3 linked regions of the Homo sapiens genome follow. The protein of the gene in region 3 interacts with the protein of the main gene of each other region in a biochemical or structural test. Each region holds a gene or a part of one and is shown on either strand. Other genes may lie near its edges.

Evidence for each region.
Region 1: the proteins of NHERF4 (region 3) and GUCY2C form a complex in vitro, tested with the Homo sapiens proteins (one study listed by BioGRID and IntAct).
Region 2: the proteins of NHERF4 (region 3) and ABCC2 form a complex in vitro, tested with the Homo sapiens proteins (one study listed by BioGRID).

The regions. Positions count from the first base shown.
Region 1 is NC_000012.12:14,615,351-14,626,315, forward strand, and holds part of GUCY2C (guanylyl cyclase C precursor), read right to left. Parts: intron 10,566-10,965; coding exon 10,407-10,565; intron 6,848-10,406; coding exon 6,655-6,847; intron 5,867-6,654; coding exon 5,692-5,866; intron 4,406-5,691; exon of another isoform or gene 4,388-4,405; intron 4,024-4,387; exon of another isoform or gene 3,960-4,023; coding exon 3,861-3,959; exon of another isoform or gene 3,802-3,860; intron 1,378-3,801; coding exon 1,283-1,377; intron 1-1,282.
Region 2 is NC_000010.11:99,848,134-99,856,553, reverse strand, and holds the end of ABCC2 (ATP-binding cassette sub-family C member 2), read right to left. Parts: intron 5,953-8,420; coding exon 5,758-5,952; intron 5,053-5,757; coding exon 4,923-5,052; 3' UTR 3,960-4,922; downstream 1-3,959. UniProt on the Homo sapiens protein: ATP-dependent transporter of the ATP-binding cassette (ABC) family that binds and hydrolyzes ATP to enable active transport of various substrates including many drugs, toxicants and endogenous compound across cell membranes.
Region 3 is NC_000011.10:119,178,754-119,190,641, reverse strand, and holds NHERF4 (Na(+)/H(+) exchange regulatory cofactor NHE-RF4), read right to left. Parts: upstream 5,168-11,888; 5' UTR 5,148-5,167; coding exon 5,132-5,147; exon of another isoform or gene 5,014-5,131; intron 5,007-5,013; exon of another isoform or gene 4,721-5,006; coding exon of another isoform or gene 4,718-4,720; coding exon 4,690-4,717; intron 4,551-4,689; coding exon 4,477-4,550; coding exon of another isoform or gene 4,164-4,476; coding exon 3,952-4,163; intron 3,373-3,951; coding exon 3,183-3,372; intron 3,079-3,182; coding exon 2,942-3,078; intron 2,736-2,941; coding exon of another isoform or gene 2,724-2,735; exon of another isoform or gene 2,703-2,723; coding exon 2,498-2,702; intron 2,354-2,497; coding exon of another isoform or gene 2,322-2,353; exon of another isoform or gene 2,288-2,321; coding exon 2,091-2,287; intron 2,003-2,090; coding exon 1,775-2,002; intron 1,638-1,774; coding exon 1,437-1,637; intron 1,180-1,436; coding exon 1,150-1,179; 3' UTR 429-1,149; downstream 1-428. Other genes in the region: DRC12 (dynein regulatory complex protein 12), read left to right, coding at 190-342; NLRX1 (NLR family member X1 isoform 1 precursor), read right to left, coding at 7,203-7,524, 8,297-8,548, 9,385-9,471, 10,354-10,949.

The sequences.
Region 1 (10,965 bases), on a different chromosome or scaffold from region 3:
TTGCTACAAAACTTTTGCTACAGTTTCCCTATCTTATTACAAACACATGTACATCACAATTAAGAACTCATTAAGTGGCATTTCTGGGGCCCATCTGGAGGCTACGGAATGTATGGAAATTTACTGGAATACTGGAAACCCTGTTTTTGCTAAAGCTGGTATTTGAAAAAGAGATACAAAATACATATGGCCCAAACACAGCCAGTGAACCACTATTTTTAAAAAATGAGTTTAATAATATATATCTATAATATATATCAATAATTTAAAAATGAGTGATTGATATATATATATATATAATTGATATATATTGTTAAACTCATTTAAAAAAGTAGTGGTTCACTGGCTGTGTTTGGACCATAGCAATCCATAAACTGGTTCTATTTTGGGGTAAGTGTTCTTTGTAAAAAATGTACTTATGGAGGACTCAAAAAGCAAGTGTGATGTTAGGACACTTTTACGTAAAAGGAGACTTTTCCAAGGTGCAATCCAAATGTAAAGGCCAGAAGCATTATGGCTACCGGAGACAGGTAACTTACAGTTAATAGCTGGCTTTGCCAGTTGTGAAAAGATTCCAATAACTTTGGAAAAGCAGCCTGAGAAGCATTTGGAGACAACTGATGGCTATGGAGGGCAGCTGTTTTAAATGTGAGGAACTGCATGAAGAATCTGGAATAGCGATTCTCAAATATTAGTGTGGTCACAAACACATTATCTTGTTAAAAATATAGATTTCTGATCTACGCCCACAGAGAATCTTGCATAGTAGGCCTGGTAGAGTGTCCACACATCTGCATTTTAACAAGCTTCCAGATGAGGAAGAGGAGGAGAATGGGGCCACACCTTGTCATTCACTCCTTGTGATTCTAGAGCTTCCGAATAGTAAAGCAACTGGCAAGAGAGGTGACCTCAGATCATAGCAGCAGTGTGTAGTAAGAGTAGGGAAGTAAGTGGGGGGACAAGGGTTTTGATTCAAATTAAATAAGTCCTGGACCAGACTGTATGTAGCTCTTGTGTTTGGAGGAGGAACTGGATACAAAACCTGGATATGGCAGAGGAAATGCTGGCAGAGTTCAAAATCTCAAAAGGGCTCTTTGGAGTAAAGGCAAGTTTTGAGTTCACATTTTTTGGTGGTCATTTCTCTTGCAGAGGATGGAGGGTGCTCATCGTGATGAGTACAGAAGAGGATTAGCATGCTCAACTTTCCTGGCCAAGTCTCAAAGGAGGTGGCCCAAGCGTGTCTGAGAGCTTTTCCTATGCATTGTCTCTGTGGACTCCTTACCTTTAAGTATGTTTCTCCTCTCACTTCATAAAGGAACTGGCACTCAGTTCTCTTCAGGATGGCTATGGTGGAGCCACTCACGTGAATTCTCAAAGCTGGAAATGCAAATTGACAAATAAAAATCCCAGCTAGTACACAGCCTATTTGTTTCCCGTTGATTCAGGATATCAACAACACCTGAGACAAGAATCCTAAATCAAGAAGAAACAATTGTGGCTATTTTAATGAAAGAACACTTAAAAATAACATCAGAGAGATAAGAAATGGTATAGTTTGGATATTTGTCCCCACCCAAATCTCATGTTGAATTTTAATCCCCAGTGCTGGAGTCCTGGCCCCCGACCAGGTGTCTGGGTCACAGGGGTGGATCCCTCATGGCTTGGTGCTGTCTTTGCGATACTGAGTTGTCACAAGATCTGGTCATTTAAAAAGGTGTGGCACCTGCCCCTGCCACTCTCTTTCTTACTCCTGCTTTTGCTGTATGAAGTGCCTGCTCCTGCTTTGTCTTCTGCCATGAGTGAAAGCTTCCTGAGGCCTCCCCAGAAGCAGATGCAGGTGCTATTCTTCCCTTACAGCCTGCAGAACCATGAGCCAATTAAACCTCTTTTCTTATAAATAACCCAGTCTCAGGTTTTTCTTTATAGCAATGCAAGAATGCCCTCACACAAGAAATATAATCTCACGTGGGAAGAAAGAAGGCCTGGCATCAGTTTTCAGGGCCCTGCGTGATGTGATGGGGATCCCTAGGTTTTTCTCCATAGATTCTCATTCCAGCTCAGAGTAGTAGCCTGCGGGACCTAGTTTTAGATTTGGCTTGTAGTGCCAAGCTTGGGTGTTGGAGTTTGGTTTTGGGTCCCTGTGGAAAAGTTCCAATAAATAGCTAAAGCCTTGTGGGCAAGGTGAAGATTCGGGAGAGTTGAGGGGTCTTGATTTTCTCAAATTTCCTTCTTCTGGAACATTGTTATCCTTTGACAAAAGAAGTGGTGAGGGCACGCCCATTCACAAGTCCATTGATGTGTATCACCTTTCCCAATATAGGGGCCTAATAGCAATACCACAAACAATTACACAGTAAGAATAATGACAATCCCAAATTGTATACCTACCATGTACCATGATTGCTAAACGCTTAACATGACATCATCCCAAATTATTTCAGAAACCCTCTTGGCACGGTTGGTATTCCATTTTCAATTTGTATCTTTATCTTTCTGAGGGCTAGAAGGATCAGGTAGCTTTCTACTCAACTTATACTGAGAATGATTAACATAATTTCAATTGTAACCCAAGTCTGTCTGACCCCAACCTTATCCTTTTCCTTGCCAGCATGATTTGCCAGGACAAACTAGTATCACATTGTCAGTACACTACCAAAATACCATCCTGCCTCCTGTGGTTTCGTAAGCCCCAGCCATGTCTCCCAGTGCTTATTTTCTCTCTTCTATATATTTCTACTGCTACCACTGTCATCAATATTTATTGAGCATCTACTTCATGCAGCACATTGTGCCTCTACCTTGCCAAGCAAATGCAATATATTCCTTCGTATATAACAAATGCTTAGATTTTTCTTTACTAAAATCAATTCTTGGTTGGGTATGATGGCTCTTGCCTGTAATTCCAACACTTTGGGGCTTTGGGGGACCAAGGCAGGAGACTTGCTTGAGCCCAGGAATCTGTGACCAGCCTAGACAACATAGAGAGACCACACCTCTACAGAAAAAATTAAAAAATTAGCTGTGCATGGTGGCATGCCTGTAGTCCCAGCTACTTAGGAGGCTGAGGTGGGAGGATCACTAGAGCTGAGGAGTTCAAGGATGCAGTGAGCTGTGATTGTGCCACTGTGCCAAAGCCTAGGCGACAGAGTGAGACCCCATCTCAAACAAATAAACAAAAATCAATTTCCAGAAAAAACGAATATGCTTTGGGAGGCCAAGGTGGAAGGACTCCTTGAGGTCAGGAGTTTGAGACCAGCCTGGGCAACATAGTGAGACCCAGTCTCTATTAAAAATTTAAAAATTATCTGGATGTGCTGGTATGTTCCTGTAGTCCCAGGTACTTGGGAGGATGAGGTGGGAGGATCACTTGAGCCCAGGAGTTCAAGTTTACAGGGAGCTATGATCGTGTCACTGCACTCCAGCCTGGGTGACAGAACGAGAGCCTGTCTCTAAAAAACAACAACAAAAAAGCAAAACCAAATAAGAGGGAAACAGGAATGTGAACCAGAGTGTGTAGTTCTTACCTTGCCTACTGATTTTTTTTTAACTTTCATGAATCTATGGTAAATGCCAGGACTATTCTAAGTAGAATATCCCCAGATTCATTGTATATGAGCCAAAAATATAGAAATAGTCTAAAACTGAGCAAAAGTGGAAGAATAAAATAATTATCAGTAAACAACAATGAAAGCAAATGTAGCAAAAGGTGGATTGACACGGGTTTGTGTTCAGCTAATGTGAAGAATTATTCTACATCTCACTGGCACTTTGTATCTCCTTATTGTGCATTTTATCTCACAGTTGCCCTCTGCTGGAAAACAGCATCTTTGTCCTCTGAGAAAAACAGTCTCCCTTCTTACGGAGGCCAGTGGATTCCATCCTAGAGGCTGTGTTGACCGTATCTCCAAATAGACAATAACGAGGCATCTTGATTCCCACAACTCCAGCAGCACAGGGACCTGAAATGAAGGACAGAAAGCAGGAAGTGGAGGCAATAGAAATTGCAGAGTAGAGTGAAGACAGGTAAGCCTCTCTGTATGGTCACAATCCTGAATACTTCCTGTCATGGAGAAGTAGCTGAGGATGTGAAATGTGAGCTGGGACTTTTGGTTTAAATGGATGAATCCAATGAAGCATCATTATTCAATGCATGCGATCATAAAGTATTTTGCTCTCGCAAAGAAAACGACATTTGTAGCAAATAGGAAGGCATTCAGAGATCCAGATCACAAAGGTGATTTTAAATAGAAGGCTCTCAGGAAGGATGAAGATGAGCCCCACTGCTTGCTTACTGTGCCAAACCACACAACCCTGAATTTCACACTGCTGGAGGGCACTGTAGATTTGAAGCTTCAATGGCTCAAGTTTGTTTTATTTTTATTTTAAGGTGGCATTTCTGGGATTGGTGCCATGACAATGGAAGACAGAAGACAAGACAAAGGCATAACTTTCCGTAAGCATTTCATGGACCAGGCGAATGCAGCTGGATGGGGAAGCCTGTGGCACAAGGAGGTTCCAACAAGCAGAACAAAAGCCCAGGCTAGACTATGCGCTGTGGCATATTAGGTAGGAAATAAGGGTTATTCAGTCATGTATTTGCATAGAATGACTGAGTGCAAGGTGTTAACAGTTTCAGAAGTTAAAGATTAACTCAAAAACTGCAAAGCTGAGTTTTAAGCAATGCCTGGCTAAAGATTCATCTAGATGACTTCTGAGTTCCTCTCTTACAGGTGTTTTTTCTATAACACCTGTAACTCATCTCAAACCTTGATGTTCAAGGCTGTTGAATTAAACTAAGTTTGGCCTGAGGCTGCCTCTTAGGGGTCCCTACAAAACAAACTGCAACCTAGCTTGGTACATAAACAAACTAAAAGCCTAACTAGGGTATACTTACGTTATAGATAGCTGAGTCTCAGCCAATCGCAGTAGCTGAGCTTCAGCCAGTCACAGGCTGTCAACTGATGGGACTTTGACCAAATCAGGGGAACACAGAGGTTTGACCAATCAAGTTGTTTCTGTCCCTCACTTCTGTTTTCTGTCTATAAACATTGCCCGCCCACCTTGCCCATTGAAGCTCTCTGAACCTCTTCTGGTTTTAAGGGCCATCTGATTTGAAAATTATTCTTTGCTCAATCAAACTGTGTTAAATTTAATATGCATAAGCTTTTCTTTTAACAAGGCTATGTAACTTTCATGGTCTTTGAAAGTGACTCATGTACTTTCTGTATAACTGCAGTGGCAGGGAAGGGAGGGGGTATAAATATTATAGAAATTTCACCATCTGTTCTTTATTTCCCCTTGTAGATAATCTAATCCACTTAAGATACTATAATATTTTAGTGGGAAAATATATTGAAGTTGGGGGTGGGGAGAAAGGGAATGGGGAGGAAATAAATGAAATCATAGGTATGGTGATTTAAATAGGAGTCCAAAGCTTCTTGTTTTCGTACATGTTTGGTGTTTATCATGTCAGCAGTCAGTGGTGCCCTCAAAGGTCTTGTTCTTAGAGTTCTCTAGGAACTGGGTCTAAATATCTCAGGATGCATAGTGGGACCTCACATTTGGCAAAAAGAATTAAGAGTAAAAATTATGTGAGGTCGATCACACTTGAAGACCTTTTATCCTTTCTGATTTAGTTGGTGCACAGCAGTACATATGGTTCCCAATTTGCTAAGATGCTCAACTCCATACCAGAGTGAACTCCAATGCGAATCCATATTGGGAGGCCAGGAAGATGCTCCAGCTCAAAGGTCCCCATGAAGCTGAGGATTTCCAAGGCCATCTTGGCAATGTCTATTGCATGCCGATTGCCATTTCTCTTAGGCAAACCACTAGCCACCATGTACGCATCACCGATGGTTTCCACCTGTGGAAACAGTTTCTCATGAGTGCCTCTGCCCCTTTGAAAAGTATAGAAAGTAAACAGAAGCAGTTAATCACATGTCAAACACAAAAAGTGATTTGGGAACACAGTATGAGCATAGCCCTTTACACTTTTTCTGGGGCCAGTTGGATCAGTTCTATGCTGATTTCTTCAGGGTTTTTATAGTCCAGTTAATGGGTGATAAAATAGCTATAAAGGAATTTAGCCATTTAAAAGTACTTCATAATTATATAAATTGTCCAGATGTGGTGACAGTTCTAGAAATGTTCAAATAAATAATCTGAATGGTTTTATGTAATTTGAGGAACACCCTTAGTTTCCTGAAAATTAATCCTTTAGCAAATGTCAACATACTATTTAACAGAATATTGTACTTTGTAATATGTAATTGTATACATTCTTGTAGTATGATTTTCTATTTATTATAACCCCAGTGTCTTCTCTGCTTCATTTGCAGTCAGCCTAAACACTGCCCATTTTTTGGAGGTGATTTAAGAGTATGCCATTTTGTCTAAATTTAATACTTCAAATTAATTCCTGCTGAACTTCCTGTTGTATCTTTTTTGCTGCTTCTTAAAGTTGAATGGTAATTTTGACTTCTCACTCCTCTAATCCTTCTACTTCTCTTCACTTTTAGCTCAGATTCAACCACCAATTCACTAAATGTGAAACTAGAGCGGTCAAGAGTAGTAACAGAAACAACCAATTCAGGCTCTGATGACCTTGAGTTGTACAATTAATGGTTTCAGCCTGTTAGGTGATGTGGTTACCTTGTAGACATCATGATGATCAACAATGTGGTCAAAACTCTTATAGATGTCATTAAGCATGTCCACCACTTCCATGGGGGTGCTGTATTTGCAGATAGTAGTGAAACCTACAATGTCACTGAAGTAGATTGTAACTTCCTCATATAGTTCCGGCTCCACAAAGCCTTTCTCCTTCAGAGACTTTACCACTAGCCTAGATGAACGAAGGGAAAAAAAATGCCTTCAACTTCAGCAAATTTCTTCTTGTTTCACATAAATCTTTCAGGTAGTAGTGATTGTCTACCAAGAATTCTAGAATTTGAGACTTCCAGTGAATTGAGTGAATCGGAAACAGAGGTTGTGTATATCATATACATGAACATATTACACAAATACACATATAATGCATGTTGTGAACACAGATGAATACAAGCAGGTTCAACATTAACTTAGTGTTTGATTATTAATCCTAATACACATAAATAGATAACTTTAATATCCTCAAAACTCTCATACATATACATACTTGTCCACTTTTTGCTTCTCTATTGATAATCAACCTCTTACAGATGTGGCTCTACATGCAGAAGCTGAGGAGAGTGTGGTATTACTTAAATCACCACAGGTATCAGATCTGAATTTCTCAACAAAGTTGATAGTTTTACTTTCCTGGCATATGTAATATGGCATTGCTTAATATTACTATGAAATAATGATGCATTTAAATATAAATTTTGATATATTCTGAACCAGAGTTCATTTGATATTTTGAACCAGATTTGGGTCCTTTGTAAAGCAGAATCAATCATGTAAATAAATTAAATCATGCTAAAACTGTAGAAGTCAAATTAAAGCAACTTTTAGAATATCTTTGCTGAATGAGGAGCAGCATATCAGATTCAAGATTGAAGGAAGAGAACCAGAAGAAGGGACTCCATACTTGGTGTGCCAAGTTACCTCTTCATTGAGAAAAGGAAGTGAGGGCTGACATGAAGTGGGATGGTCCCTGTCTGTCCTTGGCATCACTTTGTAGTGGCCCTCAGTATGGAACCACTAGAATCAGAAACTGGAAGCTGGGAGGTTCCACGGAAGTCATTGAAAAGAAATCTTTATTTTTACAGATGAGAAAGTTGAGGTCTAAAAAAGTATGACTTCCCTAAGTTCCCACAGCCGATTAGGGACAGAGCCAGGGCTAGAATTCAGGAAGCCTTCAGTCCCACCCATCAGTCTTTTTTTGCATTACACTCCCTGCACAACCCAGGCCTTGGATATTCAGGAAGATGGGGAAGATTTGGAGGTATGCTGACTGCAACAAAGGAGGTGGGCTCTCCCGGAAAGAAAACAACCAATCAACCACAAAGATTTCTAACACTCATTTGGAGAACCTCCAGAGTATCCGGAGAAACCTTTTTAATTGGTGCAATGACAAAACTTGGAACCTTTGAAAAACATTCCTTTGGTGTGGCTTGGATTCCTAGGTACACGACTGGAGTGGTTGTTCTTGACATGCCCTGTATAAAGTGCATAGTATTTTGGAGGCTGCATAGATGCAATGACAAAATTGGATATTCTGCCATATTTGCAATTCATTGTACTGCTTATATCTGAAAAGTCACATGAGTTTGGTGATATGGTTTGGCTCCGTGTCCCCACCCAAATCTCATGCTGAATTGTAATCCCCAATGTTAAGGGAGGGACCTGGTGGGAGGTGATGGGATCATGGGTGCAGATTTCCCCATTGCTGTTCCTGTGTTAGTGAGTTCTCATGAGATCTAGTTGTTTGAACGTGTGTGGCACCTCCCCCTTTGCTCTCTCTCTCTCTTCCTGCCATGCGAAGAAGGTGCTTGCTTCCCCTTCACTCTTCCACCATGGTTGTACATTTCCTGAGGCCTCCCCAGCCATGCTTCTTGAACACCCTGTGGAACTGTGAGTTATTTAAACCTCCTTTCCTCATAAATTACCTAGTCTCGGGTAGTTCTTTATAATAGGGTGAGAATGGACTATTACACTTGGAAAATAGTGTGTTATCCAGAGAGAGAAACTCATGTTGTAAATAAACGAAGGAAGGGCTGGGAGTTAACATGATGAGCTTTGATAACAGGTTGTTGCTGACATAGATAAAATTAGTATACAGAGTAGATCTCTTAGAAAGTCTTCCCAGAAGAAAAAACTTCTGGCCAGGCACAGTGGCTCACACCTGTAATCCCAGCACTTTGGGAGGCCGAGGTGGGTGAATCACCTGAGGTCAGGAGTTCGAGACCAGTCTGGCCAACATGGTGAAACCCCCTCTCTACTAAAAATGCAAAAATTAGCTGGGTGTGGTGGCAGGCGCCTGTAATCCCAGCTACTTGGGAGGCTGAGGCAGGAGAATTGCTTGAACCCAGGAGGCAGAGGTTGCAGTGAGCTGAGCTCATGTCGTTGCACTCCAGCCTGGGCAACAAGAGTGAAACTCCATCTCAAAAATAAATAAATTAATTAATTAAATAAAATAAAAATAAAAAAGAAGAAACTTCTATTTTAATGTATTTACCCCAAGGGGTACTATTCAAATAAATGTCTAAGTGATATCTGGTTCCTACATGCAATCTTAAGTTTATTTGCCCTTTGCTACACATATTTCTTTTTGATTCTTCTAGTTATTGCTCATGCATGTTTTAGTTTTATCTTGCGCATAAAATTTTTACATAAATAACCAAAGTGAGTTGTGCTGAAGCCATGGTGTATTGTAGCTCTTCAAGAGACTTGTGTGATATAACCTTTGGAAATCCAATAAAAACATCTACCAACTAGTAGTCCAAGTGGCATATTGAACTAAGGCTAGGAAAAAAGCTGAAATGGTGAGCCAGCTGATTCAAACCACTTGAGTGACATTAATGGTTAAAACCACCGCCAATGAAACCCTGGGAAGGCAGCCAGATAACCAGGATATTGTTTTTGTCACAACTCAGCATTAAAGATCAGGCAAGGAGTTATGCATTATGTACCTAATATTTATGGAGCTGTGATAGAAATTATCATCCTTGAAGTGAATATGAAGGGTTCCCTACTGTTCCCAGGCACTCTGAGGGCTCATGGGTTCTGCCCTTCTATCACAAGGTTGCAAGACACCACTTGCCAAATGTGTTCCAACTCCTTTCCCCCAAGCTGTGATCCGCCTCCTAGTTTTCTTGCAGGTGATTTGACTTTCAGAGGTTTGAGATTTTGAGGTCAGAGTTACTAAAGGAGATCAGGGGCTCCAGCTCGGGCTTCTTGGGTAGAATCCCAGCTCTGCCATTCACTGGGTGACCTTCAGAACATTACTTAGTAGAGTACAAACTGGAACAAGGCTTAGCAAAGTACATGCATTTTTTTTTTTTTTTTTTGAGACGGAGTCTTGCTCTGTCACCCAGGCTGGAGTGCAGTGGCGCGATCTTGGCTCACTGCAACCTCCGCATCTTGGGTTCACTCCATTCTCCTGCCTCAGCCTCCCGAGTAGCTGGGACTAAAGGTGCGCGCCACCACACCTGGCTAATTTTTTTTATTATTATTTTTAGTAGAGGTGGGGTTTCACCATGTTAGCCAGGATGGTCTTGATCTCCTGACCTCATGATCCACCTGCCTCAGCCTCTCAAAGTGCTAGGATTACAGGCGTGAGCCTCCGTGCCTGGCAGTACGTGCATTTTAAAACCAATAATCTACTGAAGAATATATAAAAGGAAACAAATCCTATATAGATACAATGAAAAGCAATGCTAGAGGGATTTCAGCCTCCACATCAGCAAGGCTTGCCTTACCTTGGAAGCAACATAAAGTTAAGTCTGTCAGCCCTGTCCCTCTCTGCCTTGTACAGCTGTGTCCTTTCCTCTACCAGATGTTCCAGGTTTCGAGAATATAGCTGTAGACGTCGGATCAAGGTATCCATATAGCTTTCATTTTTTTGGTCATGAAAAAGTCTGTAGGTAGTAATAGATAAAGAGCTCTTATATATTATTAAGAAAACATGAACATCCAATAAAACAATGGACAAATATGATGAACAGATAATTAAACAAAGAAAAATAAAAGCCAACAAACATAACAAAAAAACTCAACCTCATCCGGGCACAGTGGCTCATGCCTGTAATCCCAGAACTTTGGGAGTCCGAGGCGGGAGGATCACTTGAGGTCAGGAGTTTGAGACCAGCCTGACCAACATGGTGAAACCCTTTCTCTACTAGAAATACAGAAATTAGCCGGGCATGGTGGCACTACTCCAGAGGCCGAGGCAGGAGAATTGCTTGACTGGGAGGTGGAGGTTGCAGTGAGTCGAGATCATGCCACTGCACTCCAGCCTGGGTGACAGAGTGAGACTCT
Region 2 (8,420 bases), on a different chromosome or scaffold from region 3:
TCCAGGCTTGAGCAGCAAGTAATTGTCCCAAAGATGGCTGCCAAGGAACAGGGCAGATGGATCCGAAATCCGTGATAGTGTTTGTCAGGCATAATCGCCAGATGGAAATCAAGTGAGAATCAAGAGGATTAATCAAGAGATTACCAATATGGTGACCAAGGCCTTGATTGTTAGAATTGAAGAAGGAGCTCTATTGTAGTTCATTTTCAAAATTCAGTAAGAACCAAACTAGCCTAGTTTTTCTTCTCTTCCTGAAACTCTATTTTTATGTTCATTTACCTTAAAGAAACACTGCCATACATATATTCCCAGTCTGGTCTTGAACTCCTGAGCTCAAATGATCCTCCTGCCTAGCCTCCCAAAGTGTTGGGATTACAGGTGTGAGCCACTGCACCTGGCCATTTTCTCCTTTTTTCTACTTTTTCCATAAATAGTTGCTTTTTATATTGTAACAGTTAAATTCTACAGCATAACTAACTACTTGCATATGAAATTAAAAGGAGGGCTATGACAATGGAGTGCTTTTTACAGCCAATTGTTTTATGCATTTTTACAATCTTTTACTTATGATGTTTTCTTTTTTTTTTTTTTGGAGACAGAGTCCCACTCTGTCACCCAGGCTGGAATGGAGTGGTGTGATCTCAGCTCACTGCAACCTCGACTTCCTGGGCTCAAGCGATCCTTCCACTTCAGCCTCCTGAGTAGCTGGGACTACAGGCATGCACTACTACACCTGGCTAACTTTCTGTATTTTTTTTTATTTATTTATAGAAACGGGGTCTTACTTTGTTGCTCAGGCTGGTCTCGAACTCCTGCGCTCAAGCATTCCGGCCTGCCTAGGCCTCCCAAAGTGCTGGGATTGCAGGTGTGAGTCACTGTGCCTGGCCTACTTATGGTATTTTCGAACAATATGAAACCTTTCAAAAAACCAGTCTAGTGTCTAGTCCATGTGGAAGACCAAACTCAGAGTAGAATATAGTCTTTGCTAACTAAATCTAAGTTGCAGGAGCTTAGAGATTTAAATACCAATGTTTGTACAATATTGTTTGCTAATTCTAAAATAAATTCATGATCGGTATGCATTTGTGGTTAAATGTATTCTCATTCTATTATATAAACAGGACAAATTTATTCTGAGGATGTTTCCAAAAGTGCTTATGCAAAATTATTCTGCCAGAAATGTAGGCCTGATGGTTTATTCTTATAGGTTTATTCTTTATATTTTTATAGACTTATTCTTCCTGTTTGTGCCAATGTATCAATGTAAAATTAGTTTGTTTTCTTTCAGTCTGTTTATTGCTTCTGAAAAAGGGGACGCTGCTCAGCTGGTGTTGGTTTTGGGCCTGACGACACTTTCTGTGAATGTTGAAAAACTGCAAACTAAAATCAATGTGGCTACTTGTGAGAACTGCTGCTGCAGAGAAACTGTTAGAGTGATGCTAATAGCAACAGAGCCAACGAGAAGGAGCACGTTTTCTTCCTCATCCAGGCTGCGTCCAGTGTCCCTCCAGCACCTCCTATTGTCAGAACTTAATAGGAATAGTTGGCAAAGCAGAAATGAGACTTATAAGTCCCAGCATCACAGAGCAAAATCTAAAAGGGTAGGTTTGAAACTGAGAGATAGTAGCCTAACGATGGGCATAGGCACCTTTACTTCTGAACACTATGATTCCATGCACCCAGAAGAATTGGGAAGGGCACAGAAAGTGCCCAAAAGATCAGTGAAAAACAGTGAAGATATGGTGGAATTTGGGAATGTATAGGTTTTAGGTAGTTATCTAAAATTGTCCCTGAAATCGGTAAGTGAAATAAAGCTTGTGAAAGGGTTATTAATTAGGCCACAATGGAAAGTAATCTTTATTTAGTTTATATTAGGTAGCTTTTGTTTTTGTTTTTTTTTTTTGAGATGGAGTCTTGCTCTGTTGCTCAGGCTGGAGTGCAATGGCGTGATCCCGGCTCACTACAACCTCCGCCTCCCGGGTTCAAGTGATTTTCCTGCCTCAGCCTCCAGAGTAGCTGTGATTACAGGCATGTGCCACCATGCTTGGCTAATTTTTGTATTTTTAGTAGAGACGGGGTTTCATCATGTTGGCCAGGCTGGTCTCGAACTCCTGACCTCAGGTGATCCACCCACCTCAGCCTCCCAAAGTGCTGGGATTACAGGTGTGAGCCACAGCACCCGCCCTAGATAGCTTTTAAAAAATTTTTGGCACAGTGTCAGACATTTACTGGAAGCTAAATAAATAAGTGATGGCTGATAATCTTCAAAGTTCTCTGGTGATAACTATATCGACATCAGCCTGGACCATTTTGTTTGAGAAACAAATTGAGAAAATATCAGGCTTCTCCTTTAGTTTCACTTTTACTGTTGGTGCTTTACCTAGCTTGCATTTCTCTGGCTTCTGCAGTCAGCGTAAATAGTTCCTTTGTTTTCCAAAGTTCCTCCTGCCCCTCTAAATGCTCTATATCTAAAAACTCATTTAAGAAGCAAGTTGGAAAGTACGCGTGTATGGAATGTGCTTTCAAAATAAACACTAAAAAATAAATAAATAAATTTTAAAAACACCACTAAAAAAAAGGAAAAAGCAGTTTTTTGAAATTCTAATGATTAGAAAGAATAGATGGTAAAAACAGTAGTTAGCTACCTAGCAGTGAAATAGTTGAGAAAAAGAGATAAGGGAAGTGATGATGATGATGATGATGCTGATGATGATGACGATGATATTGGATTAAAAGAGCAATACAGACTGGAACAATCAGGAAAAAAGAACAAGGATCAATAGCAGAAATAAAGGACATGACTTAGCTCTTATAGAGCTTTACAGGTATTGTATTGTATTAATCTTAAAATGCTAATTTTTTTCCACAAATAGGATGCATTTTACCAACAATGCATACCAAAGTTTAATTGGCAGTATCCTTTCTTCGTGGTATAGAAAATAACAGGTATTTTACAGTTGATGGCATCTTAGATTAATATACACTAATCTGCAATTTACAGGAGCTACATTTCATGTACATAAGCAGGTATAGATCTGAAAAGCTAGCTGTAAAAAATAGCCAATGATTATAGAATATTCACAATGTACTAGATCTGGTTTGCAGAATTAAGGAGGGGATTCTCCATGAATAGCGCCCCCCCAGCCAACACTTCAATATCTATACAACTTTGTTGATCTCCATCCATGCTGTGATTCAAAATCGAATTCACAGGGCTATGTGTAGGAGGCACACAAGTTTATCATACAAATGAGACAATTTTTGTGCGTGTGTGAAAGGGGGAGCTATTATTGTTTTGGGAAAACAGATGTAACCCATAACTATTCAGGGCAAACCAGAGGTATGCTTACACTAGCTATATGCCCTTCATTTCAGAAGTTCAATGTTAAGCACCTCACTAAACAGACCGTGAAATGCTGAATAAATCAAAATCTTTATCATAACATCACTGAAAGGGAGGTAAGGAATATGAAGAACCCAAAAGAACCTGACACAAAGGCCCTAGGAGGTGAGGAAGGCCCAAAACTTAGGCTGGCTTCTGAAATCTCCTGCCCAGGAGATCTTAAACTCTCACTTTGTTGATAATGTAGGAGGTCAAGGCAAGAGATAAAGCCAAGGTCTGCCACAGTGCAGACTAAAACCCTCTGATGAACCTGTGTCATGAAAGGGTTATACCTGCAATGTACAGGTAAAGAGGCCTAGGTCCTGCCATGCAGAATGCAGGAGTCAACAAGAACAACAACAAAACCCCATGCCTATCTCCAACCTGTCACTTTCCCTGGAGAATTTGTAAATCACAAGCTGGCTCTTGTACAGGATTGTGGTCTGAAGTTGCACTGTGGTTTGAAACCCCTTAGTGAAGAATTTCATTCAAAGAGGTTCTGGGTAATGCCCCAGGCAGCAGGCTAAAGCATTCCCAATTCCCTTAGGAAGAATTCACGGTCAACTTAGGCCTCAAAGAATGTCCACAGATAAAGTTTTAAGGAGAACGAGCTTATAATAAAAATTCACAAGACATACAAGGAAATAAAATACCATGAGTAAAAACCAACAGAAACAACAGATAAACAAAGAATCCAGACATTGGAATTATCAGACACAATATTTAAAAAACAAGTGGAAATGCAAATGCCCCAGAAACATGAAAATATATTCATCCCCAATAGATACTAGGGAAATGCAAATGAAATTCTCATTGATACATCAATTCATATTCATCAGATTGACAGCAATGTTTTCAGTTGGCATTACCAGTTTGGCATCAGCTAGTTTGTGCATGTAAACATGTTCATACCCTCCATTCCTAGGTTATACCCTAGAGAAACTCTTACATATGTGCCAGGAGATGTAGACCAGAATGTCCATAGTAGTACTGCTTATAATTTTTAAAAACCTGAGAATAATGCTAATGATCCCCAATATTAAAACTGATACATTGTGCTGTATTCATACAATGCCAGACTACAGAGCAGTGAAAAAAAATAATGCACCTATTTGCATCACCATGGATGAATCTCAGATATAATATTGAACAAAAGAATCAAGTCATAGAAGATGTATGCAGTATGAGTCAGTCCATTTACATAAGTAAAAAAGGGTATATGTTGTTTAAAGATACATACAAAGGTGATAAAACAGAAATGAAAGGCAAAGGAATAATTATCGTGAAATTCAGGACAGTGGTTGTCCCTGGGAGGGGTGGGTAGCAAGGAAGTACGATCGAGGTAGACAATCGAGGGGTTTCTCAAGTACCTGGTGACATTTATTTTCTTAACCTGGGTAGTAGGTTCATGGGTGTTCACTTATCCTTTTTTAAAACGTACATTTTATACACACTTTTGTATGTATTCTGTATTTTATAAAAAATAAAATTAAATAAGAAATTATTCTTATAGTCCTTTTCTAACCCATGGGGCCTTCTGCTAGAATTTTGTGCTGTTCACATTCTCAATGCCAGCTTCCTTAGCCATAAAGTAAAAGGGTCCAGGGATTTGTAGCAGTTCTTCAGGGCTGCCGCACTCTATAATCTTCCCGTTGTCTAGGACCATTACCCTGAAACAAGGAAGAAAGAAATAAAAGTCTTAGAAAGCAGCATCTCAAGTCTAGGCATTTATAAGAATAACCAGGACTAAGTTGTGGTATAGTCAGACAAGGCTACAAAGCAGTGAAAATCAATGAGCCACAGCTACACACATCAACATGGATGAATTCTGCAAATAATATTGAACAAAAGAATCAAGTAATAGAAGAATACAGGCAGTATGAGTCCATTTACATGAGTTTTTAAAAGAAGTGCACATTGTTTAAGGATAGATTGGTTTACAAAGGGTGCCTATCATCTCCAAACAGCTTTCTAAGATTACTGACTTTTGATTGTAATATGACACAGCTGGAAGGAATAGAAAGCTTCTGGCTGTTTTACAGAGCAGCAGCTGAGGCTCAGGACAGTTAGGAAGGTCTATGGTCAACATCTGCCTCTCACGGCTTGAGCTTCCACCTCCCCATACCCAGTTAATTGTTACAACACACAGTTTCCTATTTTGCCCTCAAGATATGAATAGTTCCCTTAACCTTGTTCGTTTTCATTTGCGTGATGTAAAATTTTGGCCAGATTACTTGACATCTCTAAGTCTCAGTTTCTTCATCAGTAATGTGGTGGTGGTTAAACCTTCTGCCATCAGGTGTTTCCCGGCTGACACTGTTACTGTTGAGCAAGGGTTAAGCCATCCGTGTCAAGCCCTGTCCCCCTACACTCACTTGTCACTGTCCATGATGGTGTGCAGCCTGTGGGCGATGGTGATCACTGTGCAGTGGGCGAACTCGTTTTGGATGGTCGTCTGAATGAGGTTGTCTGTCTCTAGATCCACCGCAGCAGTGGCCTCATCCAGGACCAGGATCTTGGATTTCCGAAGCAGAGCCCTGCCCAGGCACAGCAGCTGCCTCTGGCCTATGCTGCAGCCAATAGAAGCAACCATGTGTTAGCTCCTAAAGACCAAGGAAAGACGCAGGGCAGGGGGACCATTTTCATGTTCCAGATCAGACTTTCAAAACCCCCCCTCCAAAATTCCCCTGGAATGTTTGGGCCTCTTCAACTAGCTGTACCTTGCTGCTGTGAGCATCGTTTTTCAAACTTTCCCAATTGAAGACCCACCCCAAGTACTTAATTAAAAAGTCATATTTCTGGGCCCTTGCTTTGCTCAATCAGAGCGGGCAGGAGCCTAGGAAGGTGCCTTTTTACTAAGCACCCCAGGCCATTTTTATGCTTAAACAAGTTTGGATAACAATGGCCCAGGAACCATGCTTTGTATTTGGTTGCCGTGACATCAACATTTCCAAAACAACATGAGTGTCACCAAGTTTACGTTAGCAGCATTTGACCTGAAGCCATTAATATAGGGTGGAGCAACACTAGAATGCCCCAGTGGCATTTCTTTGTGGCCTTAGCAAATCAATTTATTATTTTAATGTGTAATTCTAGCCTCAAGGCTAATTATTTGTTCAAGGCCTTCTGCTTTGATTAGAGATGAAGCTGTCTAATGAACGTGATGTCTTGGTGTGAGATGCAATGTATGTGGAATTCAAATATGCTTCTAAAATGCAAATAGCTTTAATTTGCTAAAAGCCTGTAATGAAGGCTGGACCTCTTACCTAACATAAAGAAGCTTTGGGAAATGATGTGAAGGAAATATTCAGGAATTTGCTAATTGCTCTTTCCTGCTGTGGCCATTAGGGAACATATTAAACAGGGGGTGGCCAAAGTGCTGTAATTCTCTGTAAGAAAATTTCTGCAGGAGATGAGAAGTCACCCAAGATGAACTTCCAGTTTTCCCCTGTAATGTAAGATCAGAGACACTGAAAAACTATTTACTTAGCTTGTACCAAACTCCTGCCTGGCCCAAAGTGTAACGTAGACTTTGGACTTTAGAGTAACAGACTGTTGCTGAGGCGCCACTTTGTCTTTCAGCTGCTCTCTCCAAGCTGAACTTACCCATCATTCAACAGAGAAATGTAAGTTTTAGTCCCCCAGGCCAGGTTTGAAACTCAGGTCTGAAATCAAGGCATTGGTAATACCATTTAAGCATCTCTCAGCTTGGACAGGAGAAAGATGGCATGATTTTTGTTTTTACAAACCAGAAATGTCAAGGCCTCCCATTGTACCCTACCATAGCATCCCAAATGTACCCTCTGTAGCACAGACTGTACTGGCATTTACTGACAGAGGTCTGTCTTCATTATGCTGTAAATGCTAGGAAGTCAGGGTTGTGTCTCTGTTTGCCTCTGTATTTTCAGTACCTGGCACACAGTAGGTGTACATATATTTTCGAGACGGAGTTTCGCTCTTGTCTCCCAGGCTGGAGTGCAATGGCGCAATCTCAGCTCACCACAACCTCCGCCACCCGGGTTCAAGCGATTCTCCTGCCTCAGCCTCCTGAGGGATTACTGCTGGGATTACAGGCCTGTGCCACCATGCCCCACTAATTTTGTATGTTTAGTAGAGATGGGGTGTCTCCACGTTGGTCAGGCTGGTCTCGAGCTCCCGACCTCAGGTGATCCGGCTGCCTCGGCCTCCCAAAGTGCTGGGATTACAGGCATGAGCCACTGCGCCCGGCCGGTGTTATTACATTTTTGCTGACTGAATGTTTGAATGATCTTTTACACTGGCCTAAAGACCTACTTGAGTCCTGCTAGTTGCTAGATCTGTTGTGGAGGGAAAGTAAACTGACGATGTTCTCTACCAGGGCTTGTTCCCTGGGGCTACACACTAAAATCACCTGGGTCCCCGATTCAGTTGGTCTGGGCTACAGTTTAGGCGTTGGGAGCTTTAAAGCTTCCTGGGTGATTTTAGCTTGCAGCCTAGTTAATCACAACACTCTAGGCAGTGCTTCTCAAGTGTAATGTGCACACAAATCACCTGGGAATCTTGCTAAAGTGCGGATTCTGATGAGTAGGTCTACGCCCTGAGATTCTGCACATGTAACAAGCTCCCAGGTGAAGCCAGAGTGGCTGGCCCCTGAATCAGTTACTGAGCCCTCCCTTCCTTCCTGAGCTTCAACTTGCCAACGGCCTATTCCCTGCCTACCACCACTGAGGCCCCTGGGGCAGGAGCAAGACCTGTCCATGAGCAGTGGGCTTTGGCTGAGGGCAGAACTTCAGTGTGTGGAAGGAAAAACAAAAATGTTACAGGAAAAATGCCAGATCAACTTATTAATGGACAGGCAAACATACACTGAAGGCCAGAAGTGAACTGTCAATTATATAAAAATGTTTTGGAAAGGTTAAAAATAACTGTGAAAGCCAAGAGAGTCTTTTGTTGATTTCAGGTGTTTCAACAGTGCCTACGGATTTTACAGATGTCACGTTCCCTGTCATCCGCATGCTCTTTAGATCAGTGGTTCTTTAACTGCGATGCCCTTAACAGC
Region 3 (11,888 bases):
TCGTATGATGACTGACAACCCAGGGTTAAGGAGAAGGAGCGTCTCCAAGGGAGCCCTGCTCTATCCTGAGGGCAGACAGAGGGGATACGACCATGTCTACTGGGCAAGGAAAGCTTATGAACCAACCTGGGGCAGCACTCACTCCTTCCCTCTCTCTCTTTCTGGGGTCTGAAATATTGATGTCTGCAGGACAGTCTGGACAGGCTCTTGGCCAAGCTGAGAGCCATCAAGCAGCAGTGGGATGGGGCAGCACTGAGACTTCACGCCAGGCACAAGGAGCAGCAACGCCAGTTTGGACTCACCCCCCCTGGATCTTTGAGGCCACCAGCCCCTAGTCTCTAGTGTTCTCTGAGGCCCCAGCAATAAAGTGTCTTGATGTAGAACTCAATAGAGCTGTGGGCTCTGGCCGTTTGGCAGAGAGAAGTGGATCTTATTTTTATTTTTATTTTTATTTAGTTTTCTTCTTTTTTTGTTTTTGTTGTTGTTTATTTTTAGGAGTGGCTGTCATACAGACATCTCAGTTCTGGGTTGACCCATTATCCCTGAGATTCAGTGATTGATAGGAAATAAATTTGACCAGGTCTCAACCTCTCTCCTGCAGGAGCCGCATCCCACCCCTTGAGCCTGAGGCCCTTTTGGTCCCTTCACACCACTGCCCCTTACCCCCACCAACACAAACACAGGCAGTCAGATTTATGGCGAATGGCCATTTCTATAACAAATGCAACGGTGACCAAGCACCACCCTCCCGCAATGCTAAGGCACCCACAGAGGGCAGGCATAGCTGGTCTCCAAATTTTTGCATTACACTCAAGGGTCCTGGAGTCATATCTAGAAAAGGTCCAGATGGCTTCAATCCTAGCCAGACCCACAGCCACACCTTCATCCTTGGGACACAGCTCTCTAAAACTCCCATATGACATCCTCTGGAGCCTCAGACTCCTTCAGGGACCTGTCTGAGGCCTCCAACCACACCCTCTGCTGGCAGGTGGGCCTGCAGGAAGGGAGGGAGCACCTGGGCCAGCCTGTGATCGGTGGTGTCTGAGTCCCTCTGGTCTGGCTTAGAGAGAGCATCCTGCCTTCACCACCTCAGGCTGGAGAGTGAAGACACGGTAGCCCCTGAGTATGTCTGTACCAAGCAGGGGTGCTCTACAGTAGATCCGAGGCCAGAGCCCAGTCCTATACAGAGAGAGGAGGTAGAAGGTCATTCCAGGTGGGACCCAGAAGAGTTCCTTTTTCTTGCCCCGCCCTGCACTGGAATGCCCAGAAATGGGGTTTATTTCACGAGTCCTTCTGTCCCCACCTACCACGACCTGAAGTCCCAACCTGCATACCCCACACGGCTTCACCTTGTACCTCGCCCACTCTGCCCTTCTTTCTCACTCCTCCCTGCCCTCTGTAGCTACTCACAGTCCCATCTGTTTCTTCTTCCTCACCTCTGCAGCCCCAGGGGGAATCCAGGCTTCCAAGCCCCGCAGAGACCTGGCTGCCAGCTTCAGGCAGAGGGGTGGCTCAGCCTCAGGCAGCTGCTGAAGCCTCTCCAGGTCATTCTGTCCCCCAACAGGATACCCGTTCACTTCCAGAATCACGTCTCCCACTTGCAGCCCAGCCCGGGCAGCTGAGCCTCCTGGAGTCACCTGGTGTTGTGGGGGCATGCAGAACAGGGGACACCGGGGGAAAGTTTGCTGGCTTTAGGCTCTGGGAGGGAAGCAGAGGAAGACCGATCAGGCAGCAAAGGATCGAAGGGATTCAAGATCCATGGGGCATCAGTCACCTGGGAGATGAAGAGACGAGGCCCACTGGCCACACAACTGAGTCGGAAGCCATAGCTGCCACCAGGCCCAGGGTACAGGAAGCACTGTCGGGAGCCAAGAGGGACAGAAGGCACGCTTGTGTCTTCAAGTGAAGGGTCCTCTGTCTCAACCAGTGAGGCTGAGCTGCTGCCCCGGGGCGAGGCGGGAGCCTCTGTGTTCTCCAAGAAGAGGAGTGGGGACAGGCGAACCTGGAAGGTGGCAGGGAGAGCAAATCTTTCGGACCTCAGCCCTGCCCCACTCCTGCCCCAACCCTAGCCCCTGCCCCTCAGCACGCACCATGCTGAAGAAGCGGTCCGCCTCAGGGTCGACGACAGTGAGGGAGACACAGGAGCCCTGCCCCTGGATCCTGGACACTGTCTCCTCATGGCCCAGCCCCTCCACGCTCTCCCCAGCCACAGCCACCAGCCGGTCCCCAGCCTGCATCCCAGCCTTCTTGGCTGGCAGTCCCGGGTCCACCTCCCACAGGAACTGTCCTGGGGCATAGACATCCTCACTGCTCCTCTCCAGCTATCCTAGGCCACTGTGTACACACCAGGGGACTGACCCCAGAGTGAACGGGAAGAGGCGGCCCAGGGCCAGAGCTCAGACAGGGACACCTCTTCGGTGCACTGAAAGGTGTATATACGCTTGTGTGCCCACCCCAAGGCCCACCTTCCCCCACCGCCCCCAGGGCTCCCACTCACCAGGGCGACCGTCAAGGCCCTTTTCCTCCCGGAGCAGGAACCCAAAACCCTGGGGCCCTTTCTCCAGGTGCAGGCAGCGGGGCTTGGTGGGCAGTGCCCAGCCCTCTGCCAGGGGTGCAGCCAGGGGCAATCCCAGCTGGCGACACTGTTCTTCCACCTCTGGCCCTGCCACCAGCAAGGTCACCTGCTGTCCACTCTGCCAAAGCTGTGGGGACCCAGCAGGGCATCAGTATAACACCTGGGCAGGGAGAGAAGAGGTATGCTCCCCCCACAGCCCCTCCTCCCAGGCACTAAGTGGAGCCTGGCACAAACTGTAGAGGGGGAGGATGGTGATAAAGGTAGGAGACCAGATAAGGAGGTTAGGCGCATGGGGAAGGAGGCGTCTTCCCGAGGTGGGGCCCAGGCCCGGATTGGGGGAGGAGAGTGGGAGACAGGCAGTCACACCTTCCTGGTGAGTTGGTTGTGAGTGAACTTCTCCACACTGACCCCATTCACTTCCAGCAGCCGGGCCCCGGGGGGCACCCCTGCCCGCTCAGCTGCTCCTCCAGTACTTAGCACCAACCAGAAAGGACCCTGATTGCCTAGAAATTAAAAAAAAAAGCAAGGTCCAGTCTGTTTCCTGCCTGCCCTGAACAGGGGCTGAGATCCCTCATCCTTGCCGCCCCCTCGCACCCTCTGGGCTCACCATGGGTGACACTGAAGCCAAAACCACCCTCATCTTTCACTATGTGGCACAGCCGGGGCCGGACCCCTGGGCCTAGGGTGGGACAGAGGTGGGCATCTTCTCCCAGCTGAGCTCGGGCCACGTCATGTGCATGCCGTGCCAATACTGTCAGCAACACCCGAGGGCTGCTGGCCCGGATGCGGCGTACCACCTGGACAGAGGGCACGTGGGCGTGGGTTTGGTCTAGACCCTCTTGCCAACCCCCAGGACCTCCCTGGAATCCACATTTTTTTGCCAAGGGAATCGGCTTTTTTTCTTTTTCTTTTTTTTTTTTTTTTTTGAGATGGAGTTTTGCTCTTGTCGCCCAGGTTGGAGTGCAATGGTGCGATCTCAGCTCACCGCAACCTCCGCCTCCCATGTTCAAGTGATTCTCCTGCCTCAGCCCTCCCGAGTAGCTGGGATTACAGGCGCCTGCCACCACGCCCAGCTAATTTCTGTATTTTTAGTAGAGACAGGGTCTTGCCATGTTGGCCAGGCTGGTCTTGAACTCCTGACCTTGGGTGATCCACCTGCCTTGGCCTCCCAAAGTGCTGGGATTACAGGCGTGAGCCACTGCGCCCAGCGGGAATCGGCTTTCTAGATGCTTTCCCTACCCCTCTGACTTGGGCACTTCTAAATCCTGGGGTGTGGGGGAGTGAGGCTTGTGCCCTGCTGCCATACTGCCCAGGGGACTGAGCAACCCGCTTCTCTTTCTGAGGTGCTAGCATGCTCTCCTGGACCACAGCCTTACCACCGCATAGTCTTCGTGTTCCACAACATCATTGTTCACCGCCAGGATCCTGTCTCCTTCCTGAAGACCCTGGCGCTGGGCAGAGGTGCCTGGGTCCACCCTGCACACCACATGCCCAGCCCTGCCCAGCTCCTGCTGCAGGTGGAAGCCAAAACTCTTGCCCTCCTCTTTGCTCAGTAAACAGAAGCGAGGCCGCTCCAGGCTCCAGGGATCTGGAGGGTGAGGTGGGCAGCAGAAAAGGGGGAGGAGAGGGCACAGCCCAAGTACAGGTTCGCCGTGTGCCTGGCAGACCCTGTGTCCTGATAGGGTGCTGGGCAGTTTCTGCCTGGTTGGGTGTTGGGTGGTGGGGTTCGTGGGCAGAGGGACTGGGACAGGAGAAAACACCCGGCCCCTCCTATCTCTACTCCCAACCAAGGCTGTTATCAGAGGGAGACCGAGTGAGTGGTTACCAAGGAGATCGGAGGCCGTGTGGAGCCGTGGTGCCTCCAGGGATAGGGAATGGTTGCCAGGGGGTGAGGGAGTTACCATAGGGGTCGTGGTCTTCGGCCAGGGAGAGGACAGGATTATCAATGCCCAGCTTTGGGTTAAACTTAAACTTCCTGCAAGGAGGCAGGGGAAGCAGGTACAAGCTGGCAGCTGGACTTGGGTCCCAGGATCTCCTTTAGGTGCTAATGGCAGTGAAGCGCTTCGCTGCCTCCAATTATTTCCTCCCCTTGCCCCAACCCTCGTGGCACTTACAGAGTTAACGAGGCTGTGTCCTGCAGATCTACTGGGCAAAGAAGTGGGTGAGAGGAGGAGAGTCACATTCTTCTCCCCAGATGTGCCTCTTCCATTGGCATAAACTAAAAGGACTCAGGGAAACCCCCAAACTCAGGGCATGCCCCCTCCTTTCTGCTCCAAAGGGGTCTTCTCTTCTCACTGCCATACACACAGGACTATTGTGCGGTCCCCTCCCTTTCTCTCCCCCCAAGTCCTTGGCACATAAATCTGAGCATATCAGTACAGGGTGTGGACCAGGAAGACAGACATATCAACTCATTACTTTTCTCCTGACTTGTTTACCTGCCTCAGGGCTCCAAGCCCCAAAATCAAGTGTGCCCTGGTCCCAAAGCTTCAGCCTCCAAGTCGGCCCCCTGCCTGTCCCAAAGTCCCCTGCAGAGGATTTCTCCTGGCCTCCTACCTGCGGCTTTCTCCATAGCTGGATCAGCAACCCAGTGCCCGGGGTAGGGACAAGGTTCATCACAGCCACTGATCCTCCCACCCATCCCCTCCCAGGTCCCGCCTCCTTGAAGACGCTGTGGAAGCAGTGGGGTAATGGTTAACGGGAGTGAGAGTCTTTTTTTTTTTTTTTTTTTTTTTTTTTTTTTGAGACCGAGTTTAGCTCTTGTTGCCCAGGCTGGAGTGCAATGGCATGATCTTGGCTCATCATAACCTCTGCCTCCCAGGTTCAAGCAATTCTCCTGCCTCAGCCTCCCGAGTAGCTGGGATTACAGGCATGCACCACCACACCTGGCTAATTTTGTATTTTTAGTAGAGATGGGGTTTCTCCATATTAGTCAGGCTGGTCTCAAACTCCCCACCTCAGGTGATCTGCCCTCATCGGCCTCCCAAAGTGCTGGGATTACAGGCGTCAGCCACCGTGCCCCGCTGAGAGTCTTATCCTCTGGAAAACTGTGTGGGTTCCTCCTGAATCTATCCCTGGGCCCCAACTTTTTCTGGAGACCCTGAATCTGACCCAGTTGCCCCTCTGTGCAGAGAAAGGCAGATTGCTGGTCACTAACTCCAAGCCTGGGGGGTAAGTGTGAAAAGGGTGATAATTCTATGGCCCATAGTATGGTTTGGCTGTGTCCCTACCCAAATCTCATCTTGAATTGCAGCTCCCATAACTCCCTCGTGTCATGGGAGGTACCCGGTGGGAGGTAATTAAATCACAGGGGCAGGTTTTCCCGTGCTGTTTTCATGATAGTGAATAAGTCTCATGAGATTTGATGGTTTTATAAAGGGGAGTTCCCCGGCACACACTCTCTTGCCTGCTGCTATGTAAGATGTGACTTTGCTCCTCATTTGCCTTCTGCCACGATTGTGAGGCCTCCCCAGCTATGTGGAACTGTGAGTCAATTAAACCTCTTTCGTTTATAAATTTTTTTTTTGACAGAGTTTCACTCTTGTTCTCCAGGCTGGAGTGCAGTGGCACTATCTCGGCTCACGGCAACCTCCACCTCCTGGGTTCAAGCAATACTCTTGCTTCAGCCTCTCGAGTAGCTGGGATTACAAGCATGTGCCATCACACCCAGCTAATTTTGTATTTTTAGTAGAGACGAGGTCTATCCATGTCGGTCAGGCTGGTCTCAAACTCCTGACCTCAGGTGATCCGCTCACCTCGGCCTCCCAAAGTGCTGGGATTACGGGCGTGAGTCACCATGCCCAGCCTCCTTTATAAATTACTTACCCTGTCTTGGGTATGTCTTTATTAGCAGCGTGAGACTGGACTAATACAGCCCAGCATGGCCAACCCCCATGCCAATATCTTGTTCATGGGCCCTTCCAGCCTCCACTGCCTCTGAACCTAGTGCCCAAGAACCACTTGCAATAGATCATGGTTGGTAGTTTAACCAGAAAGACCAAGAACAGTGCCCTTTCTTGGAAGCACCAGGCAGTAAAGAAGAGGCCACAATTGGTAGAAGGCACACGGCTTTTTAATAGCAGCAAGTCAGGTGCATCTGCCTCGAGGGGCTACCAAGCCATCATACCATTGTGGCAAAGGGGGCATGAGGATGAGGAGAAAGCACCAATGTGAGGGCATCCTCGGTGTCCACAGGTGAGCATAAGGCAGGAGGGGAAGCTTCCAACACATCTGGATGGCGACACCCCTGGCATGGCAGACATAAGATGTGAGCCCCTTGGTGACACAGTCAGAGGCTCTTTGAGAGGAGGGGGAGGCAAGGTTGGTAGTGGTGCTTCAGGGCACTCTGGCCATCCAAATGCCACATGCTTTGGTCCTTCTAGCTGAATGGAGAGGAGGCATGTTCCATCTCCAAGCCCGAAGCATTGATTCACCATCTTTAACTTGGAGATTCCAGACTCAGTCCTGGTCAAACATGCCCTAGGAGGGCAACTGGCTCAGCTATGCCCATTCCTCTGCCTCCAGACCTGAAGGAATCTTTCTAGAGGGAGCAGTGCAAGCCAGGAGGCCACAGAGGGAAAAGGTTTAGGGCCAGTGGTCACATAGCTAGGTGCCTGCCGCCAGTGTCTCAGCTTCCAGAGCTTCCCAGCTGCTCCAGGAGGGCCCTGACCTCGCCCTCCACTCGCAGCAGCTGGGCCTTGCGCCAAGGATTAAGGGTGGCACCCCGGCTATCTTCCAGATCCCGCAGTAGGAGCTCAAGGTGTCGCTGAACCCGGGCCCGATCCCAGCTATTGAGGTTCCGCTGGACTTCACTGAGGATCACTGACCAGTATTCTGACACCGCCGTCCCCTCTGTCAGTGACACCACCACCCGGGCACCACCTTCAGCAGCACCCCCCAAGTCTCGCAAGACCTGGCGGCCCTCTGAGCTCAGCTCATTGAAGTAGAGGCTGGCAGGAGAGAGAAAGTCGATGCCATTCAGTAGAGCTCTGAGAAGGAGGGCCCGAGGGTAGATGGATGGAAAGTCAGGGGGCCTCACAACTCATCTCCTGGCTGCAGAGTGCGATCAGGTAACTGCAATGAGCCAGAGGTGGAGGCTGCTGGCCAGTGGGAGGCAGGGACTAATACTAAAATTCTTTTTTTTTTTTGTTTTTGTTTTTGTTTTTGTTTTTGTTTTTTTTGAGATGGAGTCTTGCTCTGTCACCCAGGCTGGAGTGCAGTGGCATGATCTCGGCTTACTGCAACCTCCACCTGCCGGGTTCAGGTGATTCTCCTGCCTCAGCCTCCCAAGTAGCTGGGATTACAGGTGCGCACCACCACACCCAGATAATTTTTGTATTTTTAGTAGAAACGGGGTTTCACCATGTTGGCCAGACTGGTCTTGAACTCCTGACCTCAGGTGATGTGCCCGCCTTGGCCCCCCGAAGTGCTGGGATTACAGACGTGAGCCACCACAGCCGACCCTGATACTAGAATTCAGTGGGACCAGAGACAGTAGGGCTTTAGGAGAAATGGTGGTAGGGAATTGGTGCAGTTTAAGCGCCAGTCACAGAGGGGGTGGGTTGGCTCAGAGCTAGGTTGACAAGGATCAGTCAGAAACCAGGAATAAAGGACAGGCACCAGGCCCAGGCCCAGAAGCACTCCCTAGGATTGGAGGAGCACAGTTGAGAGAGGGAAGTAGTCTGAAGGGCTGGGGGCAATGGGACCAGGGACAGGACTCACTGTAGCAGTTCCAGGGAAGGGTGCTCCCGGGCAGCTCTGGCCAGGGCCAGGGCCGCTGTGTCACCAGCACCGTTGTACGCCACGTTCAGCTCCTGCAGCTGCCGGTTGCGGTCCAGCTGGGCAGCCAGCAGCTCCAGGCCTTCGTCCCCAAGGCCCGTGTGCAGCAGGGACAGGTGCGTCACTGAGGTGTTTCCTGCCAGCCCCTCCATTAGCACGGCAACACCTGCCGCCGTCAGCGGGTTGTTGGACAGCCTACAGCCACGTGCAACCCAAGGTTATGAGGGCTCATTGAGAGGAGGGGGAGGCAAGGTTGGGGGTGGTACTGGCAGCCTTAATGGGGCAGCCCTGTGCTGGGTGTCAGGACTTGGGCCAAAGAGGGCCCTGCATGGGGCAAGAGGAACCTGGACATAGAAATGCAGGCCCAGGAGAAAGGCTGGAGCAATAGGGGGTGTGGCGCCTGGCAGAGGAGTCAGAGTAGGGGAGCTGGCCTTTCCTTCCCTCTTCCCCTGACTCCCTTCTTATCTATTCCCTTCCTTTTCACCATTTCCGTTTCCCTTTTTCTGCCTTTTTCACCCCCTCCACAGCCTCTGCTTCTCCCTCCCCTCTGACTCCCCTATCCTTCTCCCTGCTCTTCCTTTTTCTCTCCTCATTTGCCTCCCCTTACACCAATCAGAAACTGGGAACCCAGGAGCTCAGGTTCCCCACATATCAGTCAACACTTAAGGGGTGTCTACTGAGTGCCCAGCATTAGGGTCCTCCTCGGGAGGCTGCAAGAAAAATCCTGGGAGGGGATCAGTGGCACTGTTACCAGGCAACCGGCCTAGGTATTATTCCACCCTCTCTCCCCACCTCCCCCAGGCTGATTTTAGCCACGTGAGAGGTTTCTTAGCACCCATTACAGGTGGCATGTTTCCCTGCTGCCCTGCTGCTTGCAGTGGACCTGGGGGAAGTGGAGGGGACAGGTCAGGGCCTAGACTCTCCTCCATTTACTATCCCTTGGGTGGGTCTGTGCCAAGTATGTCAGGAAGCAGGGAGCTCACCCTTGACCTTAGCTGGCCACCAGGATGCCCCACTCCCAGGTCACTCACCGCAGTGTGGTAATTTGGCACTGGTCATGCAGCAACAGGTCTCGGAGGTCCTTGCAGGCCTCAGGGCCCAGGCTGTTGAGTTGCAAGCTGGAGCAGAAGGTGGCCAGAGGGGAGGTGAGAGACCAGGGAGGGAATTCAGCAGGCAGTCTGTCCATCTACCATGCCTTTTTTTCATCAGCCTGCCTCTGGGAATCTATACCTGCTTCCCCTTTTTTGAGAGACAGGGTCTCACTCTGTTGCCCAGGTTGGAGCACAATGGCATGATCACAACTCACTGCAGCCTCAGACTCCTGGGCTCAAGCAATCCTCCCACCTCAGCCTCCCGAGTAGCTGGGATGATAGCTACATGCCACCACACCTGACTAATTTTTTAATTTTTTGTAGAGACAGGGTCTTGCTATGTTGCCCAGGATGGTCTCAGACTATTAGGCTCAAGTGATGCTTCTGCCTTGGCCTCCCAAAGCAGTGGGATTACAGGCAGGAGCCACCATGCCTGGCTCCTCCCTTCTGTTGCTCCTGTCACCTCCACCCAAACTAGACTTTTTTTTTTTTTTTTGAGACGGAGTTTTGCTGTTGTTGCCCAGGCTGGAGTGCGATGGCATGATCTCAGCTCACCGCAACCTCCGCCTCCCAGGTTCAAGCAATTCTCCTGCCTCAGCCTCCCAAGTAGCTGGGATTACAGGCATGCACCACCATGCCTGGCTAATTTTGTATTTTTAGTAGAGACAGGGTTTCTCCATGTTGAGGCTGGTCTCGAACTCCTGACCTCAGGTGATACGCCCGCCTTGGGCTCCCAAAGTGCTGGGATTACAGGTGTGAGCCACTGCTCCCGGCCCCTAAACTAGACTTCTTCATCCCACCTTCTGGTCACTCATCGGTACCTCTGGTTTCCCTGGCACTTTCTTTTCCCACTTCTTCACCTCCAACCCTCTTCCCTCTTCATGCCTGTGCATGAGGATAGGTCCTCACCCCAGCTTCCGGGCACGCAGGAAGACAGGCAGGAGTGTGCGCAGCCCAGCAGGATCTAGCTGGCAGGAGGCCAAGTTCACCTCATCCAGGGCATGCCTTCCGCTGCCCAGCACAGCTGCCACCACTGTGCACTTGACTGGTGTCATGCGCACACCTGCCAGGTTGAGCTGACGCAGGGAGCTGAGCACCTCAGCGGAGAAGCGCTGGTTCTGGAACTCATAGTGGAAGAAGAGGTGGTCAAGGAGCTCTGATGGGGGCAGCACCTGCCGGCCCAGCTTGCCCAGCTTCTTCTTGATGGCCTGGGCATTCTCCAGGGCATCCAGGTTCTTGATGGGGCAGCCAAGCTGAGCTAGCACAGCTCGGTTGTGGGCAGAGAGAAGCCCCCCCATGAACATGGGGAAGAGCTCGAAGACTTCATCCTCAGGGGGCTCATCTGGGTGGCGCCGGGGGCCCTCCACGCCCAGGATACTGGCGCCCATCTGGTCCAGAACATCATCGTTGTAGTAGTCCTCCTCTCGAAACATCTCCAGCACCATGGCCTGAGCCACCGCCTCCCGGCTTTTACCCACCATGCGCCCAAACACTCGTGGAACCACCTGAAAAAGAAGCAGGGGAGAGTCACTGTGGCCTTCCATGTGCCTGTTCAGCCTTCAAGGTTCAGCTTAAGGTACACTCCCATGACTGCTCCAGCCCTGTGATCTCCCCTTGAACTTAGCATAATTTGTCTGATCATGCTACTCCCCTGCTGCGACACCTTCCATGGCTCCCTACTGCCTATGTGGCAAACTCCAAACATTTAGCCTGGAATATGAAACGTTTCTTAAAACTAGAGATGGGGTCTTGCTGTGTCACCTAAGCTGGTCTTGAACTTCTGGGCTCCCTAGCTTAGGCCCCCCAAAGTGCTAGGATTATAGGCATAAGCCACTGCACCTGGCCCAAAACTTTTCATAATTTGGCCCTAATTTGACCTTTCCAGGGTCATCTCTCAACACCTGTCTCATGTGCTGCAGACATTAGGAACTTCTTTCTCTTTCCCAAACACCCTGATACATTTTCAAACCCAGGAGGTGGTGAGAAGGAATTAGCATGTATTACACACTTAGTTTGGGACCGGGCTAGGTATCACAAATACATCACCATCTTCAACATGCAGTTCCTACTGCTTTAAGGGCCTGTGTGATCTGGGCCCTGCCGACTACGATGCCTTCATCACAAGCCTCTTGGCCCCACTCGCTATGCTCCTGCCCTTTCGGCTTTTTTCATCTTAACAGTGCCAAGGTTTTTCCTCCTTCAAAGCCTCCATAGGCCAGGTGCAGTGGCTCATGCCCGTAATCCCAGCACTTAGGGAGGCCGAGGTGGGAGGATCACTTGAGCCCAGGAGTTCTAGACCAGCCTGGGCAATGTAGCAAGATGCCATCTCTATTAAAAAAATTTTCTTAATTAAAAATAAATTAGCCAGGCATGGTGGCATGTGCCTGTAGTCCCTTGAGCACTGGAGGTCAGGGATGCAGTGAGCTGAGATCACACCACTGAAC